Homo sapiens: one gene and its partners. The protein of the gene in region 1 interacts with the protein of each later gene in a pairwise test. Each region holds a gene or a part of one and is shown on either strand. Other genes may lie near its edges. The genes, in order: HARS1, TNIK and TTC3.

Evidence for each region.
Region 2: the proteins of HARS1 (region 1) and TNIK interact in a two-hybrid assay, tested with the Homo sapiens proteins (2 studies listed by BioGRID and IntAct).
Region 3: the proteins of HARS1 (region 1) and TTC3 interact in a two-hybrid assay, tested with the Homo sapiens proteins (one large-scale study listed by BioGRID and IntAct).

Annotation. Positions count from the first base shown.
Region 1 is NC_000005.10:140,681,298-140,684,950, reverse strand, and holds part of HARS1 (histidine--tRNA ligase, cytoplasmic), read left to right. Parts: intron 1-1,731; coding exon 1,732-1,851; intron 1,852-3,653. UniProt on the Homo sapiens protein: Catalyzes the ATP-dependent ligation of histidine to the 3'-end of its cognate tRNA, via the formation of an aminoacyl-adenylate intermediate (His-AMP). Plays a role in axon guidance.
Region 2 is NC_000003.12:171,450,334-171,453,986, forward strand, and holds part of TNIK (TRAF2 and NCK-interacting protein kinase), read right to left. Parts: intron 208-3,653; exon of another isoform or gene 1-207. UniProt on the Homo sapiens protein: Serine/threonine kinase that acts as an essential activator of the Wnt signaling pathway. Recruited to promoters of Wnt target genes and required to activate their expression. May act by phosphorylating TCF4/TCF7L2.
Region 3 is NC_000021.9:37,079,636-37,083,288, reverse strand, and holds part of TTC3 (E3 ubiquitin-protein ligase TTC3), read right to left. Parts: intron 343-3,653; exon of another isoform or gene 1-342. UniProt on the Homo sapiens protein: E3 ubiquitin-protein ligase which catalyzes the formation of 'Lys-48'-polyubiquitin chains. Mediates the ubiquitination and subsequent degradation of phosphorylated Akt (AKT1, AKT2 and AKT3) in the nucleus.

The DNA of each region.
Region 1 (3,653 bases):
TGCTGTCTTCTATTCAGTCAGACATTAAAGATTTGCAAAGATGTAAATCAGTGCCACTCTTCTCACTAAATTGTTTTGGAAAACAGTTACCTTTTTCTAAAATATTATTTGCGTTAACATATAATAGATATATTATTTGTGTTAACATATGTTATTTGTTAAATGAATAAATATTTTAAAATTTTTGCCGTTCTAATTCTAATACAGTAAATATTGATAGGTATAATCCACTTTGGGGTCTTGAATACATAGTAAGAGTGTAAAGAGGTCCTGAAACCAAAGACTTTGGAGTAGGGTATAAAAGCCCAGATTGGAAGCTCTGACCTGGAAGGACAACACAGTTCTAGTCCTGACTGCCACGAACATGCTGAATGGCCTTAAGAAATGACTTAACTTCTCAACATCCTGTACTTCATCTGTAAAATTTATCTGCCTAGCCTATGTCATAGAGTTGTTACCAGAAACAAATTAGAGAACAAACAGTTGTAACTAAGATTTAAAAGAAAAGTTATATTGGGAGAGAAACGTTGCTTATAAAATTTGGAATTCAATTAGTTGAGCCAGTTTGAGTTGGTTATATTGCCTATAATCATGTAGGTATTTTTTTGTTGTTATTATTTTTGTTTGTTTGGTTGGGTTTGTTTTTGTTTTTGTTTTTGTTTTGACAGAGTCTTGCTCTGTCTCCCAGGCTGGAGTGCAGTGGCACTATCTCAGCTCACTGCAAGCTCCACCTGCCGGGTTCACGCCATTCTCCTGCCTCAGCCTCCCAAGTAGCTGGGACTACAGGCACCTGCCACCACGCCCGGCTAATTTTTTTGTATTTTTAGTAGAGACGGGGTTTCACAGTGTTCGCCAGGATGGTCTTGATCTCCTGACTTCGTGATCCGCCCGCCTCGGCCTCCCCAAGTGCTGGCATTACAGGTGTGAGCCACCGCGCCCGGCTGGTTGGTTTGTTTTGTTTTTGAGACAGAGTCTCGCTCTGTCTCTCAGTCTGGAGTGCAGTGGTGCAATCTTGGCTCACTGCAACCTCCGCCTCCCAGGTTCAAGTGATTCTCCCTGCCTTGAGCCTCCTGAGTAGCTGGGATTACAGGCACCTGCCACCACCATTTGTTTGTTTTATTGAGACAGTCTCACTCTGTTGCCCAGGCTGGAGTGCAGTGGCACAATCTCGGCTCACTGCAACCTCCACCTCCCAGGTTCAAGGATCCTCATGCATCAGCCTCCCAAGTAGCTGGGACTACAAGGGGCGTGTCGTCGCACCCGGCTAATTTCTGTATTTTTAGTAGAGACGAGGTTTCACCATGTTGGCCAGGCTGGTCTCGAACCCCTGACCTCAGGCAATCCATCTGCCTTGGCCTCCCGAAGTGCTGGGATTACAGGCGTGAGCCACTGTGCCTGGCCTCAGGTAGGTGTTTGTTATTAGGCCAGGAAATGTTCTGTTATCTGAGAGAGAGTGTTTAGAAAAATGGCTTAAAGAAAAGAGTTCTAAGAATTTTAGAAAATAGACCCAAACTTAAAAGGGAATGGAGTTTGGAAGGCAGATAGCAAATGGGTGTGGGAATTAATAGGGAATTATTTGTACTTGTTTTAAAACTCAGTGGCCTGTAGGAAAATCTGTTTAGAGCAGGATTTGCTTTTTCATTATTGAGGTCATCCTTTTATATTTCCAAAACATATTGTTCTTGGTTTTCAAACCTCATTTCTGGTTCTCTGGCTGATTTCAACTCCAAGGGCACAAGAGACTATAGTCCCCGGCAGATGGCAGTTCGCGAGAAGGTGTTTGACGTAATCATCCGTTGCTTCAAGCGCCACGGTGCAGAAGTCATTGATACACCTGTATTTGAACTAAAGGTGAGGAATGGGCAAGAAGAAACTACATGGTAGATGAGTGGGCATTTGAATAACAAAGAAGATGACAACAAGAGAGTGAGGGTCCAAAGGGCCCACTCCTGTTGTGGACACAGACCAGTCTTTGCTCCAATAAGAAGGGGGACAAGAATGGCTTGGAGGGAGAGGCCCTGTCTTTTATTATCTTGGTTGTGGCCAGCAGATTCCAAAAGAGAGCCATTCTTTGGAATGGTAATTGTTCTGGGTCCTCTCTACATTGTATTGCGTGGCATCTGTACTTGGAATGTTTTCTAGATTCATGCAAACCATACGTACATAAATATGCAACCACTCTCCTATTGATGGACTCTGAAGTTGTTAGTAGTTCTTTGCTATTAAAAACTAGATTGCAACTGGGCACATCTGTAGTTCCTGCTTCTCAGGAGGCTGAAGCAGAAAGATCACTGGATCCGAGGAGTTCAAGGCTGTAGTGTGCTATGATGGTGCCTGTGAATAGCCACCATACTCCAGTCTGGGCAATGTAGCAAGCCCCTGTCTCTAAAACAAACCAGCCAACCCAGATTGCATTACTACCTGCTTCAAACCCAGTGATTCCCACTGCACTTATAGTACAACCCAAACTCTTTACTCAGGTTTACAGAGCCCTAGGTGATCTGGCCACTGCCTCTCCTACCTCATCTCATGCTATTTTTCCTCTTGCCCACTATGCTACTCTGGTCTTCTTCCTACTCTTGGAACATAGTCAGTGTGTTTGTACCTCCACACCTTTGTTCTTGCTCTTCCCCTTTCCTGAACTCCCTTTCCTTAGCTCTTTGCATGATTTATTTCAGATTATACTAGAGACTGCAGATTTTAATTCCTTTTTAAAAAAAAAAAATACAAATAGAGACAGAGGTCTTGCTATGTTGCCCAGGCTGCTTGCGAACGAACCCCTGGCCTCAAGTGGTCCTCCTTCCTCAGCCTCCCAAAGTGCTGACATTACAGGCATGAGCCACCACGTCCAGCCAGCCAGATTTTAATTTCAGAGCTCAGCTAAAATGCCACTCCTCAAGTAATCTTCTCCAACTACCTTCTTTAAAGTAGCTGTTCTCTCTCTTATCACAATGAGCTAGTTTATTGCCTTTAGGCTATAAAACTGTCTGAAATTATCTGTTGTTTCCTTCATCAATGTCTCTTTTTATTGATATTTAATTGTACATATTTATGAGACTGTTTTTACCTACTGTATTAGTTTGCTAGGGCTACCATAACAAAGTACCATAGACTAGGTAGTCTAAACAACAGAAATTTATTTTCTCACAGTTCCAGAGGCTGGAAGTTGACATAACATGTTGGCAGGCCTAGTTCTTTCTGAAGGCCATAAGGAAGGATCTGTTCCAGGCCTCTCTCCATGGCTTGTAGATGGCCATCATCTCCCTTTGTTTTTTTTTTAATTGAGACAGAGTCTCGCTCTGTTGCCTGGGCTGGAGTGCAGTGGCACCATCTCATCTCACTGCAACTCCACCTCCCAGGTTCAAGCGATTCTCCTGCCTCAGTCTCCTAAGTAGCTGGGATTACAACACGTGTGCCACCACACCTGGCTAATTTTTCTATTTTTAGTAGAGACGAGGTTTCACCATGTTGACCAGGTTGGTGGTCTTGAATTCCTGGCCTCCAGTGATTCGCCCACCCCAGCCTCCCAAAGTGCTGGAATTACAGGCATGAGCCACCGCGCCCAGCCTCCCTTTGTCTTTACATCGTCTTCCCTCTGTCCCTATCTAAATTTTCTCTTCTTACAACAACATATTGGATCAGAGCCCAACTTG
Region 2 (3,653 bases), on another chromosome or scaffold:
TGTGTTCCGTACATACAAGCAACTTTATAACCATCTTTGTATCCATACTTTGTTAGACTGGTTTTTGTGTTGTGGGAATGACTGATTCACTAAGATGTCCAGGATGTTGGCAATCCAGTTGAGGGACGTGGTATAACGGGACCCAGCACTGCATTCGAATTTCATCCTTGGACAAGACAAGTAACTTCTCTGACCCCAAATTTCTACCTACAAAAGAGGTAAATTGGATCACCAATCACCAAGCCCTAGGCAGACAGATAGATAAGTAGATATATAGACAAAGATATGCAAACACAATCCCCCTTTACTTTTCATTTTAGCCTTAACATGGTTTTATGGCTTTATCCTATTTATGCCTTTTATCAGAAGGTGCCACAACTTACTTTTTGGAGGTATGAGGTGTAATAAATAAATAAGATCCCTTTTAAATGAATGAATTAATTGCATTCACACAATTGATATTTATTCAATCAACATTTATCATGTGCCAGACACAGTTCAAAGCACCAGGAATGTGGTGCTGAACATGCAGGCAAGATCCCTATTCTCACAAAACTTATTAGGCTCCAGTTGGGACAGCCAGATTTTTAAAAAATTCAGATAGTCACGACTGCCTTAAAGATAATAAAGCACTGAATTGGACAGTTTCAGGGTGGAAGGGAGTGTTACTTTACAGATATATTGCAAAGAAAGCCTCTCTGTTTAGTAGGGAGCCTCTAAGAGGGCCCTCAGTGACTTCTGCCTTCTGGTGTTAGTTAATATTCTTGTGTAGTCCCCTTCGAAATGAATAGGGCTGACTTGGGTAGCCAACAGGGTATTGCAGAAATGATGGTGTGTGATTTCCAAGGCTAGGTCATAAAAGACATAGTGGCTTCTGCTCTGCTTTCTTGATTCCTCTATCTGGTAAAAGTGGGCACGATGTTATGAGGATGCTCAAGCAACCAATGGAGCCACCTACGTGGGGAGGAACTGAGGCCTCCTGCCAACATCCAGCACCACATAAGTAAATCATCTTGGAAAGAGATCCTCCAGCTCCAGTCAAGCCTTCAGAAGATAGCTCACCTTGCCAAAATCTTCCTGCAACCTCAGGAGATACCTCATGCTAAAACCACCCAGGTAAGCCACTTCTGAATTCCTGGCCCACAGAAACTGTGAGATATAATAAATGGTTATTGTTGTTTAGGCCACTAAGCTTGAGGGTAGTCTGCTATGCAGATACATAAGTAATAATACAGGCAGCATCTCACCTTAGACCTAAATAATAAGATGGAGCCCTCCATGTGAAATTTCTGACACGGAGAACTACAAGAATGAGCTTGGCATATTCACAAAACAGAAAAAAATCAGTGTGGCTAGAGTGTAGTAAAAGACAAGTGCAGGCTCTCTTCTCCATCCAACCATGGGTGTAGAAACCATGCCAATGTTGTCTTCAGCTCAGCCCCAGCAACTAGTAGCACCCAATAATCAGGTACTGAATGAATATATACACAAACAAATAAATGAATGAATGCTGGATACCATGTGCATTTCTTCCCCTACAGTTAATCACATTTCACAGAATCACAGAATACTGGGCCTGAATTTACCCTGCACCCAAACTTGCACCTTCTAATACACTAATCAAACAAATGTTTGTAACATATGCAATGTATTGTTAAAGTCTACAAATTTCCTACTTGATGCATACTGCCAAGGTTCTAATTTCACTAACTAGAGAGACAGCACTTTAAAATCTAGGGTTACTTCAGAGTCTAAATCCGGGTATCCAGCAGCAACACTGTAAGGGAGTACCCAGCGGAAGTCACAGTCAGCCCTTCGTCCTATCACTCGGTCTTCAAAAACTAGAACAACACTTTAAATTATAAATCAGAATCTGACAGCTGGAAAAAAATAGCTCATTTAAAAATTAGAAAGGGATGTTACGTTCAGTGGCAATTCCCAGCTCATTGAGGTGCACAGTTTGCAATCTCTTGGTATCTCCAACAGATAGAATAAGAATCCATGGCTATTTAAATGCCCTCAGTCCTGCCTCTAGTTCCCTTACATATTCCAGGAATATGCATCCCAGCAATACAAATTGCTGGAAGTCACCTCCAGCAATTTCTAGTCCAAACCACTCATCTTACATGTGACAAAACTGAAGCTTAGAGGGCAAGGTGTCAGAGCCAGCTTTATGACGCTGGGCTCTAACTCCCAGCTGTGTGCCTCATTAAACCTCACCATCTCCCAAACTCTCTCTACCCGCTCACTGCCAGCTCTGTCAAGATAAAAACTCAACGTTGTCTTCCAGTGGGCCACCCCAGAAGCACACCCTTTCCCGCCCATCTATTACTGTTTAATCAAAACAGCAGTCATAAGTATTATCCGATTGTTGAAATAATTGAAACACACTCCAAACACACACACACACACACACACACACACACACACACACACACATACGCCTTGCAATTCTAACCCATGGTATTTTAAATCTCTCAAAACTTAGAATAAGACAATGGAGAGAACACTTTCCTTGGCAGAAAAATTCTAGAAATAGGAATACCTACCCAGGACCAGGCATAGTATTTCTCGTAATTGGTGCCCCCGGAATTGTACTCTATGTAATTAGCATCCACTGGAATTGTACTCTACATAAAAAGTGTCCCCAGGAGTCATGCAACCTAGACTATAATGTAATTCATGATCCCTGAAATTGTGCCATGGTCAGCAACAGGCCCCACCTTTCTGAGGTTTCTATACTCTCTCTACATAGCACCACCTCCAGCCCTTCTAAAAGGGTTGCACAGTATATATTTTGTTAATTCAAAATTTATTTGTTGAACGAACGCCTGCTGTGTAAAGAAAACTGGTGAGGATCCCTAAGAAAATCAAACGTTGCCTCTAAAAAGGAATTGTCTAGTAGTGAATATAATCCAAGACAGAAAGTTCTGAGTGTTATGAAAGAGGTGTGAGGTCAGTTCTGAGACAGTCTATGAGTGGGAGGGACAACTTGAGAGAAATCAGAGACTTCTGTGGAAAAGGTGGTCTGCGAATGTTCAGCGTTGGGGCAGTAGGTACAGAAAGGAGACTAAGACAGAGCGCCCCCTACAGAGCATCCATGGGGGAATGAAATTGTTCCCTGCCGCAATGGGGGAGTGGTCGTCAAAACTGCAGAGCTCGGTGGGAGGCCCCTCTGAATTGCCGCTGGTCTTAACATGCTAAAGAGTTTAGTTTTCAGTCTGTAGACTAAGGAGACAGAGAAGGCCTTGAATAAAAACAACCAGATTGAAACTGTGCGTTTGGAAGACTCACGTGGCTACAGTGTACGAGAAACCAGTCAGAAGAAGGCTGGTGGTAGAGACACAGGAGGAGGGGAGGTCCTGTTGCGGGTGTTGCCCAGGGGACAGTAACTACAGCACTTGCAGGGAACAGTGGAGACAAGGGGACCCATATGATAAACATTAAGGGAAGAATTTTAAGTTGGGGTGATATAAAATGTGTTTTGAGAAACTGAGGGCACCCCCATGAGACAACCAGGACATGTAAAAAAGAGTGGATAGAATCATGTTTCTCTAAAGGGAAATAAGCTTCCAACCAGACTGGAAGGAATCACAAGCGGAATTCATCCAACATTTTCTACTTAAGTCCTCCCTCTCTCTCCACTAGAGACC
Region 3 (3,653 bases), on another chromosome or scaffold:
CTCCTGCTTTTATCCCCAGTCACTCCACAACACACAACCTAGAAGCCAGTCATACCCAACTGCTTGTCCTTCCTAAACAAAACTTATTCTGCAACCACCTAATGTCTATTAGTTCTTAATACTCAATTTCAGGAAGCATTTCCTGATCTTCCCACTACCATCAAGTTGATTTTTGCACCTCTTCTCTGTAAACAAGAGCACCCTGCCCATGTCTCTGACAGCAGTTTTCACATTGTTTGACCATCACAGGTTTATCTCTGCAGGGTCACTATGGATCCAGAGGATATATTGTGCAATCCATTTGCCATCTGTACTGCTATTTACTTAATACTTTTCTTTAGGATAACTCAAATCTTAACTTAGATGTAAACTAGTTTTAATGGAAATGTTGGTATCACCAAGAAAGCTTGCTTGGTACCATAAAATTTTTTATAATACAATCAAACAAAAATATACTACTAAAATTAAATATTAAAATAAAGAGCTTCTGATCCCATCAGTTATGGTCAACTATACACTCTGGGGGAATGTACTGTTGGGAGGAAAAAGGTATATCCTAGATTAAAAAAAAAAACACTTTTTGGATGTTTTTGCTGAGCTCATAGAAATAGGGGAACATGTGAAGGCACCCTCTCCACGCAAAAGCAACAAACCTTGAGCTAGAAATTAAACCTGGCTACAGTTTAGTGCTACAAGTAGTGGTGCCAAGAGCAGTAATAGGATCAGGACACTGAGCCCTGGGCCAGAAGCAAAATGTAGGAACTCAAAAGTGATGCCAGCTAAACTTTCTGGCTCCCAGACAAAGCTGATAGAAATGCTTTCAGAAAGCAAGCATCCTCAAATTAGACTCTCAAGATCACCACAAAGATCAAACAGAAGTTCATAATCAATGATCACCAAACACATGAGGTGACAGCTACATTGAGGAGAGACAACAGAAAAAAAAACAAAAAAGCAATAAATTTAGACATCCCCCTCCTCAAGGATATCAGACATTGGGAATGTCTGATATAGTCTACAGAATAGCTATAGAGTCACAAAAATCAGCATATAACATGAGAACATGAAGAATGACTGGACATATCAAAAAAGAACCAGGCAGAACTTTTAGAAATTAAAAATGCGGCCGGGCATGGTGGCTCATGCCTGTAATCCCAGCACTCTGGGAGGCCAACGTGAGCAGATGACGAGGTCAGGAGATCGAGACCATCCTGGGTAACACGGTGAAACCCCGTCTCTACTAAAAATACAAAAAAATTAGCCGGGCGTGGTGGCGGGCGCCTGTAGTCCCAGCTACTCGGGAGGCTGAGGCAGGAGAATGGCGTGAACCCGGGAGGCGGAGCTTGCAGTGAGCTGAGATCGCGCCTCTGCACTCCAGCCTGGGCGACAGAGAGAGACTCCATCTTAAAAAAAAAAAAAAAAAGTAATTAAAAATGCAATTGTTAAAAGAAAAAAAAGAGACAGGATGGGTTACAGAGGATATTAGGCACAGTTGAAGAGAAAATTGGTGAACTAAAATATATGCCTTATGAAATTATCCAGCACTGTAAATTCTGGTAAAGAGAAACAAAGAGATAAAAAATATGAAAGATAAAGAATAAGTGATCTGGAAACAGTTTAGTGTATATATATATCCAGTTAAAGTTCCAGCAGGAGAGAAGAGACTAATGAGACATAATATTTAAAGAATACAGGGCTCAGAAACTTCTAGATCTCATGAAAGACAAAATGCAGAATCATGAAACACATGCATCCAAAATAGGATAAATATAATCTCTATCTAGACTTAGAAGTGAAATGATGTAACACAAAAGACAGAAAATCCAATGTAACTAAAAGAAAAATGATATTTTCTTCAAAAAACGCATAAATAGGCTGGGTGCAGTGGCTCACGCCTGTAATCCCAGCACTTTGGGAGGCTGAGGCGGACAGATCACGAGGTCAAGAGATCAAGACCATCCTGGCCAACATGGTGAAACCCCATCTCTACTAAAAATACAAAAATTGGCCAGGCATGGTGGCAGGTGCCTGTAGTCCCAGCTACTTGGGAGTCTGAGGCAGGAGAATCGCTTGAATCCAGGAGGCGGAGGTTGCAATGAGCCAAGATGGCGCCACTGCACTCCAGCCTAACAACACAGCAAGACTCCACCTCAAAAAAAAAAAAAAAAAAAAAAAAAAAGGCATAAATAAAACTGGCAGCACACTTTGTATAAGCAACAGCAGAATAGTATTCCTACCCTACTGACAGAAAAGAAACACCAACCTACAATTGTACATCCATCAAAATGATCTGTCAAGAACAAAGGTAAAATAAAAATACTTTTAGATTTTTTTTAATATCTAAAACTGAGTCAAACACCAACCAAGACACCTGGAACATAACCAATTAAAAGACAGAAGTTGTCTGGTGAGATTAAAAGAAAAATCCAGTAGTATGTCCCTTATAAGAGACACTTAAAATGTAAGGACACTAAAAAAAATCAAAGTAAAATGAAAGAAAAGAATATTCCAGGTAAATTAGCACCAAAAGAAAGACGGGATCAGACAAAAAGCCTCTAAGACAAAGAAGCAAACTTAGAGAAGATCACAATATAGTAAAGGTTCGAGCCACTAGGAAAAAAATGTTAAGCTTGCATGTAGCTAATAAAAGTCTCAAAATACAGAAGAACAAAAATTGTTAGAACTACAGGAAATCTGTTAGAAACTAGTAATGGTGGAATATTGCAACACACTTCTCTCAGTTAATGATAGGATAAACCAAAATTAATAAGGATAAAGACTATCAGAACAACACAAATAACAAGCTTTACCTAATAGACACTTAACAATTACAGAATATATACTCTTCACAAGTGTACACAGAACAGTTCTAATAATTCACTATGTACAAGGCCATAAAGCAAGGGCAAAAAAAAAAAAATGCTAAAAAGATAAAATATTCTCTGGCAACACAAGTAAGAAATCGATAATTAAAGGAAAACAATATAGACACATTTGAAAATTTAAAAATGTCTAAGTAACTCATAAGTCAAAGAAAAAATCAAAATAGAAATTGTAAAAATACTTAGATTTGAAAGTTAATGAAAACACTATAAATTAAACTATGTTAGATAAGCAAAAATGAACTTTGAGGAAGTTTACAGTCTTGCATGCTTATACTAGGAAATCGGAATGGTTGAAAATTAATATTAAGTGTGTAATTTAAGTGAAAAAAATAGTAAAATAATAAACTGAAAGTAAAATGAAATAATAAAAGAGAAAAAAGATCAATGAAATAAAAAACAAATAATAGAACAAATTAGGCCAAAAGTTAATCCTTTGCCAAGATTTTAAAAATGGACAAACTTTTACTAAGACTGATCAAGAAAGAGAAGTCAGACATAAATAATATTCAACATGAGAAAAGGGGAACACATATACAAATAAAACAGAGATTAAAAAGAGAATTAATGCCATACCACGAGCGGTGGCTCACACCTGTAATCCTAGCACTTTGGGAGGCCGAGGTGGGCAGACCACTTGAGGTCAGGAGTTTGTGAAGAGCCTGGCCAACATGGTGAAACTCCGTCTCTACTAAAAATACAAAAAAATCAGCCAAGCATGGTGGCGCACGGCTGTAATCCCAGCTACTCAGGAGGCTGAGGCAGGAGAAT